3 linked regions of the Homo sapiens genome follow. The protein of the gene in region 1 interacts with the protein of each later gene in a pairwise test. Each region holds a gene or a part of one and is shown on either strand. Other genes may lie near its edges. The genes, in order: ZNF366, PEX1 and PINK1.

Evidence for each region.
Region 2: the proteins of ZNF366 (region 1) and PEX1 interact in binary tests that used the Homo sapiens proteins (3 or more experiments, as listed by UniProt).
Region 3: the proteins of ZNF366 (region 1) and PINK1 interact in binary tests that used the Homo sapiens proteins (3 or more experiments, as listed by UniProt).

What each region holds. Positions count from the first base shown.
Region 1 is NC_000005.10:72,497,347-72,501,077, reverse strand, and holds part of ZNF366 (zinc finger protein 366), read left to right. Parts: intron 1-3,731. UniProt on the Homo sapiens protein: Has transcriptional repression activity. Acts as a corepressor of ESR1; the function seems to involve CTBP1 and histone deacetylases.
Region 2 is NC_000007.14:92,514,881-92,518,611, forward strand, and holds part of PEX1 (peroxisomal ATPase PEX1), read right to left. Parts: intron 3,376-3,731; coding exon 3,261-3,375; intron 3,163-3,260; coding exon 2,396-3,162; intron 1-2,395. UniProt on the Homo sapiens protein: Component of the PEX1-PEX6 AAA ATPase complex, a protein dislocase complex that mediates the ATP-dependent extraction of the PEX5 receptor from peroxisomal membranes, an essential step for PEX5 recycling.
Region 3 is NC_000001.11:20,636,458-20,639,957, reverse strand, and holds part of PINK1 (serine/threonine-protein kinase PINK1, mitochondrial precursor), read right to left. Parts: intron 2,117-3,500; coding exon 1,829-2,116; intron 67-1,828; coding exon 1-66. UniProt on the Homo sapiens protein: Serine/threonine-protein kinase which acts as a sensor of mitochondrial damage and protects against mitochondrial dysfunction during cellular stress.

The sequences.
Region 1 (3,731 bases):
ATCTTAGAGCTGAAGAAAGGCAACCACCTTGTTTAACAGATAAACTACAGAAAGTACGTGATTTGCTCAAGGTCAGTAAATTAATGTTGCTTGTTTTCAGTTTCCTTATAAGGAAAAAGTGTCATCTGTAGCTAATAATTTCTTTAAAACAAATATGTATCCTTTAAGGTAGTAGCCTTCAAATGGGGTCCAAAGACCAACACCATGGCACCACCTAGGAGCTTGTTAGAAATGCAGAATAAATCCCAGCTCCACTGCAGATCAACTGAATCAGAATCAGCATTTTAACAAGATCTCCAAGTGACCAGTTGCACATTCAAGTCTGAGCAGCACTGCCTTATGGTTTTGGACTGTTGCACACAGATTGATCAGGGAATGTAGGACTCTATTCCAAGGAGTTACAAAGCCATTTGTTAACTTTGACCTTGTCCAAGACAACATACCTCCCTATTAAATAGTGGCATTACTGGACAAGTCTCCAATCTATTCAGCTCTGAGCAACAGTAGGCATGATTTCTGTGATCTCTCCCATGAAGTTAACTCCATATCATGGGATCCTAGCACTCTCAGAAAGGGCGAGGGTATTATTTTCAGGTGCTTTCTGAGCACCAATCATCAGAGTTACCTGGGGCAGATTTCTAGGCCTTTCCCCAGATCTAACAAAGCTGAAGAGGGGACCAAGGCTCTGCTTATTATTCAAGCTGCTGGCTCAGGGTAAGGAAGCCCCCAGGGAGGGTAGTGATGAGTATTTCAGGCAGATTACCCTAAAAAATAGTTTAGCTTTTTTCAGTAGCTTGAAAAAAACATTTAAAACCATAGTGCACACATTAGGGCACCGCAGAGTTCTTCCAGGAAGAAAACGTACTCTGCCGCTTTCTTCCTTTGAATGCTTGAGAATAAGGATGAGAAATCTTGCTGTCTGCCCTGTGTCTTCCTCAGGGAGAAAGGGAGGACCCGCTTCTCCAGCATCACAGCCAAAGAGGAGACGCCAGTCCACACGCCTCCCTCTTCCCAGTGAGAAAACTCTGTGGAAAGAATCCTTAGAGTTTCCTTTGCACTGGGGACTCACCGTTCTCTCTTGGAACAGAAATCAAGAGGAGACTATTGTTGGAGGGGTGGGGGAAGGAAGCAGCGCCGGAAGAGAGCGAGGGAGAGGACCGGAATCGCCTCTGGTTTGCTGAAGCCTGGACAAAATGGGGCCTCTGCCTGGATGGAGCCCATGGCATCTCTCCCGTGACTGAGGCCCTCTGGCCACCTTCCATGGAAAGTGCAGGGAGATGAGGAATTTCAGGTTTTCAGCGCTGTTTAATGGAACGCCTACCTCCATAGTGTCCACCACTTGTTTCTTGCTGTTTTTCTAGTTCAGGCATTTTCTTTCCCACGACACGGTGGAATTTCCTCCTCTCACCCCTACTTCCAGAGAACTTTTTCAGTTGTTTTTTTCTTTTTTAAGTACAAAGAAGGGTCTTCTAGCATTATCCTAAAAAATCTATATATTGAACATTTTTAGGGTACCAAAGAGTTCTATGCTTAATCTATAAAGGCGGGGTTGGTGACAGAGCGAGACTCCGTCTCAAAAAAAAAAAAAAAAAAAAAAAGGCAGGATTCCTGAAGTGCTAGAATTTGAATTCTTAGGGTGAGGAATATGTGAAAAGTTCTGAAAGGTTGCTGGCAGGCATATCCAGAATCTCACCTCCTACCTGGCTTTTCAGAGATCTGGGCAAGGAGGGACTATTCCCAGCATCGTCTTTCTTGATATTCAGGAAACAATCAGTGATGCAGCAGGCAAGCAGGCGTTTCCTCCAACATGGTCTGCAGCCCTCCTAGCACCCAGTGATTTCATGGCACAATCACCTGTCTCTGGCTGGGGAGAAGTCTCCAGGGGCAGAGAGTTCTTCTGGTGGCAGCCTGGGCCTCAGATCTAAATGGGGATGTTTGTGAAGGAATAGAGACACCAGTTTTGTGGGTAACAAAGTTCTGCTCAAAACTGCATCATTTTGCAGAAGGCAGTCCCATTCCATGTGTCTTCACATCCTCCATATGTTCAGACACATCCCACTATTTAGAATGACTGACATTGACTCTTTTCCCCCTTGAGTCTCCTAGGAGAGAAATTTCAGCATCACATCTTTAATACATGCAGTTGGGAAGGACATTTAATGGTGAGAAAATCCCATTTCAGAAGGATTAGGACATAAAATGCCAAATGTATTTGCTCTTCAAGCAATATGGATATTTTGGGAGGAGCAGTGGTTTGCTGAAGTGCTATCGCTAGGTACATGGTACATGTACCTTACACTTGTGTATACATACACACACTGCCTACCCAAAATCACTGGTTGTTATAAAAGATTATGAGCCAATGGGTTAGCCCCAAATTGTTTGACTCAAGAATGTAGTATCTGATGTTCAATCTCTTAAACTTCCAAACAGATTTACTGTCCTAATTATATTTTTCTTAGTGATGTTAAAAAGAGTTTGAATATTGTTAGCTAGTGGGGGCAGGGAGAAAATGAGAGAAGATTTAAGTGTTACTACTAGCAATTCATAAAGCACTTCATTCACTTACTGTGTGTTGTTTTGAGAATGTGAGTAACGCAGGAAAGAATGCTACTTGGAGTCAGAGAATAGAGGATTGAGTGTGTGTACTGACACATGAATGGATGGCAGATCAGTGAACTAAAATGTATATGGGAATTTAGTACATGATAAAAATAACATGTATATCAGCGGAGAAAGTTGAATTATGTAATTAATGAGATTGGGACAACTGGGTAGCTATTTGGGAAAAAAATAAACTTATATTCCTACTTGATTTTTTAAATTAAAATAAATTCCAGATAGATGAAAGACTTAAAATGTTAAAAATAAAAATATACTGTGAACTTAAAATTTTGCTTTAAAAAGTCTTAAAGAAAACATAACAACTGTAGAGATATTTTTTTTTCGAATCGCAGAGTAGGAAGGGCCTTTCTAGTTTTACGCAGAGGCCTTAACATTTATCATGCATTTTATTGCATTACAATAAAAAGCTTCTGCAGGGCCAAAACTCAATAAACAAAGCCAAAAGACAAACAAAACAAAAAATGGAGGAAGCATTTGCAACATGTATCACAAAGAGCTTAGTATAAACAGAAAAATGAGCAAATGACATGAAACACATACTTCACATAAAATGAAATATAGTTGGCTTATAAACATGCACAAAATAAAAGATATTTTAATTCATAATAAGAAGCAGCAAATTAAAACTATGAGATACCAATTTTTATTTACTTGATCGGCAAAGATGAAACATTTGTTAACACACTTATCTCTGGGGTTCTGGAGAGAGCTCTCAGATATTTCTGGTGTAACTGAATTAGCAGAACATCTACAGACAGCAATTTGTGAATGTCTATCAAAATGTAACATTGACTCCTCTTGAATTTATCCTATATAAATAAGATGTAAAAAGACATACCTACAATGCAATGTATCTGCCACAGCATTATTTGGACAGAAAATAATTAGAAATAGCACAATTGTCCATTAATAACAGACTGGTTAAATTAGTACAGGGCATCTGTACAATGGAATATTGTGCAGACCTACTAAATGAGGGAACATAATAGAGTCCAGAAATGGACTCTCAGTATATGTTCAATTGATTTGACAAAGGTGTCAATGAGGGGAAAATAGTCTTTTAAACAAATGGTACTGAAACGATTCCATATCCATAACAAAAGAAA
Region 2 (3,731 bases), on another chromosome or scaffold:
CTCTACTAAAACTACAAAAATTAGCCAGGCGTGGTGGTGGGAGCCTGTATCCTAGCTACTCGGGAGGCTGAGGCAAGAGAATCGCTTGAACCTGGGAGGCAGAGCTTGCATTGAGTGGAGATCGCCACCACACTCCGGCCTGGGCGACAGAGTGAGACTCCGTCTCAAGAAAAAAAAAAAAATTATCTATATATATATATATATATATATATATATATATATATATATATATATATATATATCAATAATGATGTTAAAAATTTTTCTCAACTTCCCAAATATAAGTAAGCACTGAAAGACATAAAGACGACTTTACTCTCTATTAACTTCTAAAGAGCAGGTGCAGACATATTAATGGTAGACAAAAGCATAAATAAAAACTCTAAGGTACATATTCTGACTTAAAGAGAATTTAACAATCAAGTTTCCTGTTTGTTTGTTGTTTTTTTTTAATCACCATGCTTCACAGGGTAATAAAGGTTCAAGTTAACATGAATTTGTTAGTTGTATCACCAAGTGATCAATTTTGATCTCTCAAGCCAAGTCCATTTTAGTACCTGATTTCACCTACTGTGACTTCTCATTGTCCATGGCTCTTCAACCTTCAGTGGAGTGGGAAGGGCGGAGTCCTTATTGCTATCTTAATCACAGGACTTTACCATCAGCACTTCTCCCTGTTCTCACCATATAATTTCAAGGAAATAAAAGGATATTCCCATCTAATGACAGAACCAGCTAAATCATAAGCTCAGTGTTAGATATTTTGAATTTGAGGATGCAGTGGGATCTCCTGAACGGACAGTTTAAAGCTAACAGAAAATAATGATCTGAGGCCAGGCACAGTGGCTCACGCCTGTAATCCCAGCACCTTGGGAGACTGAGGCAGGCGGATCACTTGAGACCAGGAGTTCAAGACTAGCCTGGCCAACATGGTGAAACCTCGTCCCTACTAAAAATACAAAAATTAGCCAGGAGTGGTGGCGCACACTTGTAGTCCCAGCTACTCTGAAGGCTGAGGCAGGAGAATCATTTGAACCTGGGAGGTGGAGGTTGTAGTGAGTGGAGGTGGTGCCACTGCACTCCAGCCTGGGCAACAAAGCAAGCTTCTAACTCAAAAAAAGAAAAGAAAAGAGAAGAGAAGAGAAGAGAAGAGAAGAGAAGAGAAGAGAAGAGAAAAAAGAAAAGAAAAGAAAAGAAAAGAAAAGAAAAGAAAAGAAAAGAAAAGAAAAGAATGGTCTGGAGCTTTAGAAAATGATGTAGGCCGGCCAGGAGCAGTGGCTCATGCCTGTAATCCCAGCACTTTGGGAGGCCGAGGCAGGCAGATCACCTGAGGTCAGGAGTTCCAGACCAGGCTGGCTAACATGGTGAAACCCAGTTTCTACTAAAAATACAAAAAATTAGCCAGGCGTGGTGGTGCATGCCTGTAGTCCCAGCTACTCAGGAGGCTGAGGCAGGAGAACCACTTGAACGTGGGAGGCGGAGGTTGCAGTGAGCCAGATCATGCCACTGCACTCCAGCTTGGGCAAGAAGAGTGAAACTCCATCTTGTGGAAAAAAAAAATAGAAAAGAAAATGATGTAGGCCAAAGAGATTAATGCTTTGTCAGTTATTTGTATAAAGGTCACAGGTAAAACTGTTGGAGAAAAAAAAAAAATCTACAAAAGGAGACAACCTTCTCTTTCTATTTTATTCTCTTTCCTAACAAGTTCCTCTCTTTATCACTATGAAGTCTTACTTTACAGTGGTTCAAATTTAGGTTCCAATAAATGGACTAGTGACTTATGTCATATAAAGGTAGCATTAATATTTGTGGCCAGGATGAGGGGCTGGAGCACTAGTTGCCCTGTCTACTTCCTCTCCGTTATACACAAATTAAAGAGCAGACACCGGCAGGGTAAGCAGCTCCTGGATGCATTCCAATCCAGGTGCCACCACATGCAGCAGGAAGGTTACCTCATGCCATGGATCTCTCCCTACACTGGCCCTTTTCCCTAATATTAACAAGTTGCTTTCGGTAACTGGGGAACAAATCTGCAAGCATTAAAGATGGGAGGCTTTGTAGGGCACTCCATCCTGATGAACCCCCAAGTCAATCTGCCTGGGTTTGAATCCTAGTTGTAACACTAGCTATGCAATCTCAGGCAAGTAATTTTGACCTCTCTGGCCTGAACCTATCTAAGCTTGTACCTATTCAAGCTTACTTGGCCAGAAAACATACAATCTTTATCCAAACAAGGACTTTACTGCAAAGCGTAAATGTGTCCCCCAAGTGCCTTTAGGCACTGTGTTTCTTTTTAATTGATTTTCAATTTATATATGAAATACTATTCTAATTCATAATTTGGGGATGTTTAAGCCACATAAAATTTCTCCCAAGTTATAAAATTTATACTAACCCAGACTTTCCCAAGATGGAGAACTTCTACATTTTTGGTATATTTGATGGCATTGTTCAATTCTTCAAGTCCATTCCAGACTACTTGTAGCACACAGGCCTTCTCATCTTCTTCATTATGATCTGACCTAATTTTTTTTTGATCTAGTGGCTCTGACATCTGCTTCTCTTTTTCAGGTGATAACACATTTTGTTTTGTTTTACTTTGCTGTTGCTTTGGAGAAAGTAGCTTAACTAGCTTTCCATATGTCACAGTAAAGCTGGGCTCTACATCAAAATATTCCTGGTCCCATGGAAATACATGAATGGCACAGTGTTTATGAAAAACAGAGGTTGCTGACGCGTTATATATACTAGGAGGTTGAGATTTGCATACTCTGAAAATATTGTCTAGAGGAACAACCTTTGACTGCATATTTTTGAATGCATTGATTTCAGTTAAACCCCAAGATGTCTCTTGTTTCTTCTCAGATTGAAAGGAAAAAATGCTTCCTATCATAGTCCATAAACTTGCTACTGATGATGAGTCAACTGGAATCTCTGACTCGTTTTCATTAGATTCAGTGATTCCCACAGTATTTGACTGAAGTTGCTTGGTTTGAAGTTCTTTCATCATTCCTTTCTGGTCTCTTCCATAACTATGAAGTTTTTTATATTCAGCATCAGCTTTTGAAAATGTATTCTCTTTGGCTCGGCGTGTCTTTGGCTGAATAAGGAGTTTGGTGTCAGTTTCCAGCCTTCCATAAGAGGCAGCTGGTATTAGTGCAACTGTGTAGAAAATAAAGCTCATTAGTGCACATTCATTTCTACTTTGGACTCAATGCTATAGTGTAGAATATGACAGCAAATATTACAATAGCACCTACCAATTTGGATAAATATGTACGTTTGTTGATCAACCCAAACAGGAAAAATGGCTTTTGGAAAAACTATTCGAATTTGATCTAGAAGATGTTGTTCAAGGGAAACAGCATGCAGCTCCTAGAACCAACAGACGAAAAGATCAATTCACTTTACATTTTGTCCACTCCATATCTAGTTAAAAAAAATCTCAATTCTTTTTTTAAAAAACAAATTTTAATGTGCATATTTAATATACACGACATGGTGTTATGAGCTACATATAGATAGTATAATGGTTACTATAGTGAAGTAAATTAACATATACATCATCTCACAGTTACCCACTTTTGTGTTTTTGTGGTAAGAGTAGTTAAAATCTACTCATTTAACATGAATCCCCAATACAATTTTATTACCTATAGTTGTCAGGTTGTACATTAGATCTCTATCAATTCATTCTTTTTTTATTTGAGACAAGGTCTCACTCTGTTTTC
Region 3 (3,500 bases), on another chromosome or scaffold:
CACTCGGCTCGCTGGGACCAGCTCCTGGCTCATTGTGTTCAAGATGGCTTCGCTGGAGGAACCTGCCTGGAACACCCACAAGGAACCCAGGGTTACACAGGCCGGAGCAGAATGGTAAGTTCCTTGTAAGCCCTGCCTGTAACCTGGAGCAGGGCAGCTACTGCCTAGAATTGGCTCTGACCTTCGAGATAAGATGACCTGTCTTAACTGGCAGGCTGAGACTAGTTACTCCTGGGAGGCAGACAGAGGTACCATCCATGCCAACTCAGAGGATTCTTCACACTCCTCAAACTCTTGCAGCCTAGATGCCAGGGCTGGAGGAGATGCCAAGGTGATCAGGATATGGGGTGCTGCTTCCTGCCATCGGTGCCTCTGGTCCCCACCAGTTCAAAATTGACCACTGGATCACTAACTCATTCTGCAGGCTCCCTTCAGCAGCCAGGCCAGAGCCTGACATGCTCCACCCTGGGTGAAGTTGTACTGAATCACAGAACAGCCTTCCTCCATCCCCCACGACAAACAGACAAAAACCAAAGAGTGGGGAAAGCACCTTATTGTCCTCATTGTATTGGGAAGGGCTCTCAGGACATATGAAACCTGTATCAAGAAGATCTGGTAAGAATCAACAATCTTGTAGCTGCTGTGAATGCAACAGCTGTCATGCCCCAACCAGGGCATGTTTTGATGCTAAGACTGGATGTTTCACAGGCAAAGGATTTGGCTACTTGTTAGCTATTAACCCAGCTTGGAGTGCAACAGTCTAATAACCTTCATTCCCCAAATCAGAACAAGAAACTGCATCCTCTAGGGCCCACCATGAACGGCTGTGGCCACTTCCCACTGCGGCCTTGAATGGATGGGCCCAGGGATGGGCAGGAGACAGAGCATCGGGTCTTAATACATTTTTAAAACCTACCTAGCAATGGCAAGGTAAATAAATTAAGTGGACAGAAATTGTTTTCGTGGGGGAAAAATACTCTTCAATTTCCCAAAGTCTTGAGTCCTTCCAAGAGTTGAGAGTAGGGAGTTGACATGCAAGCCTCTGAGCTGGAGGTGGGCTTGCAGAGTGAGCTTAAAGGAAAGAGATCCAGTTCCCCCTCTCCAGTGAGGCAGGTTGCAGGAAGGAGGGGATGGTGAACTAACCAATCAAGGTAGAAATCAGTGGTTTAGGCACTTGTTACTCAAAGTGTGGTTGACAGAGCAGTGGCATTGGTATCACGTGGGAGCTTATTGGGAAGGCACAATCTTAGGCCCCATCCCTGACCTGCTGAATCAGAATCTACCTTTGGGTTTTTTTTGTTTGTTTGTTTTGTTTTGAGACAGGGTCTTACTCTGTTACCCAGGCTGGAGTGCAGTGCCACAATCTTGGATCACTGCAGCCTCTGCCTCTTGCACTCAAGTGATCCTCCCACTTCAGCCACCAGCCACCCAAGTAGCTAAGACTACATACAGGTGCAAGCTGTCACACCCGGCTAATTTTTGTATTTTTCATAGAGATGGGGTTTCATCATGTTGCCCAGGCTGGTCTCAAACTCCTGAGCTCAAGTGATTGGCCTCCCAAAGTGCTGGGATTACAGGCATGGTCCACCAGGCCTGGCCAAAATCTACCTTTGAACCTGATCTCTGGGTGATCTGTGGGCAGAATACAATTTCAAACATTCTGGTTTAGACTTCTGTGTAACAGGGGGAGGTAACCTGACTATACAGGCACCTTTCCTGTGGATAATCTGTCTTTTCCTACCTACTTCCTGGAAAAAATCCTCACCAGGCCCACTAAGATGGGCATTTTGAGAACATCTCCTTTAAAGATGAAAGGCCTGGTGCTTACCGAGATGTTCCACATCATCTTGATGGCCAAGGGGAAGGCAGGGGCCCCCGGAGCTCGCTCCTGCCCTTCTCCTGGTGCACTGGTACCTGGGCCTCTCCCTGGAAGCAACCCGGTGCTCTTTGTCACCTCCAGGTTCTGGGGCAATGTAGGCATGGTGGCTTCATACACAGCAGCACTGCAGCCCTTACCAATGGACTGCCCTATCAGATACTCCTCCAGCCGAAAGCCCTGCAAGCGTCTCGTGTCCAACGGGTCAGGCCCCGGCTTGCTTTTCTGGGTAAAAATTGCCTGTGATGAGAAAAGAATGCACCGTGAGCCAGGGAGCCTAGGAAGGCCCAAGAAAAGGGAAACAGGGGAGGCAGAGAGAGGTGCAGCAAGGCGTGGTCCACGTCGACCAGATCAATAAACCAGAAAAACACAACCCAACCAGGTTCTACTGCTCAGCCTGGGTCCAGGCCATCTTCTTTCTCATTATTCAGAATGATTTTTCTCAAACTCTGTTGCTTCACTGGGATCACAATACTCAATGATCTGAGAGGTCAGAAACCCCACGTCCCGCAGCCAGTGCACCTCTCCTTGCTGCCTTCACTCTCCAGCAGAGTTCTGGAGGTGTCTGATTATGGAGACAGCTCGCTCTGCAAAGACCTTGGCTGACGGCTCCTGGGCAACTAGCAGGAGTGTGTGATCCACAGTGATCTCAGAGGGTCTCTCAGGCAAGTGGGTGACATCAGGCGCATCCCCAGAGCAGAGGGATTCAGTACTGTCTTTCTCTCTCTGCCTCTTAGGGCCCCGATGAGGCTACTCTGTCCAGAAAGGTAGCAAGAGTACAAGAGTTCAGACAGAAATAGATGGAGGTGCAGGTGCTGGGGGCAGTGCTGCACTGGGAAAGAGGCCATGTGACAAAAATCTGGTGGGTCTTCCCCTGCTTCAGGCAGCGGTGACGTCACTCTTCCAGTCACCCAGGCTCCGCTTTCCCTCTCAAATGGTCTGATCTGCTGAGCTCTTCCTTTCCAAGGTTAGTCACCCCTGGGTGCCAGGCACAGCTCTGCATATGCCCCTTGGCCATAGCCTACCAGGCACCATCTCTAGACTACCCCACTCTCAGTGCCGTGCCTTCCCTGCTCTGAGCCACATCAAAATATGTTGCTTTCATGTGTCACTCGGCTGTCCATCAGACTGCCCAGGAGGTTATCTGTGTTCTGGCTGCTGCCAGGCTGGTCTGCACGCTGCCTGCACTCATCCTTTGGACGCCTCCCTCTGAAAGCTGCTCACAGCATCCTTCCAGCCCCTGTTTCTATAGTATTGCTCTGTCTGGCTCATCCCTGCTCAGCCATCAAGCCCAACTCAAGCTCCTCCTTCCTCTGTGACCAGCCCTGATGACCCAGCCCATGGCAACTTTCCTTCTAGAGGGTTCCTAAAGCACCTGCTATCTGTAAGCAACTTAACCTTGCACTATAACTTTGAACCTTTTAAAAAAATGAAAGTCCAGGCCGGGCGTGGTGGCTCATGCCTGTAATCCCAGCACTTTGGGAGGCCGAGGGAGGCGGATCATGAAGTCAGGAGTTCAAGACCAGCCTGGCCAACATAGTGAAACCCCGTCTCTACTAAAAAATACAAAAAATTAGCCGGGTGTGGTGGTGTGCACATGTAATCCCAGCTACTCAGGAGGCTG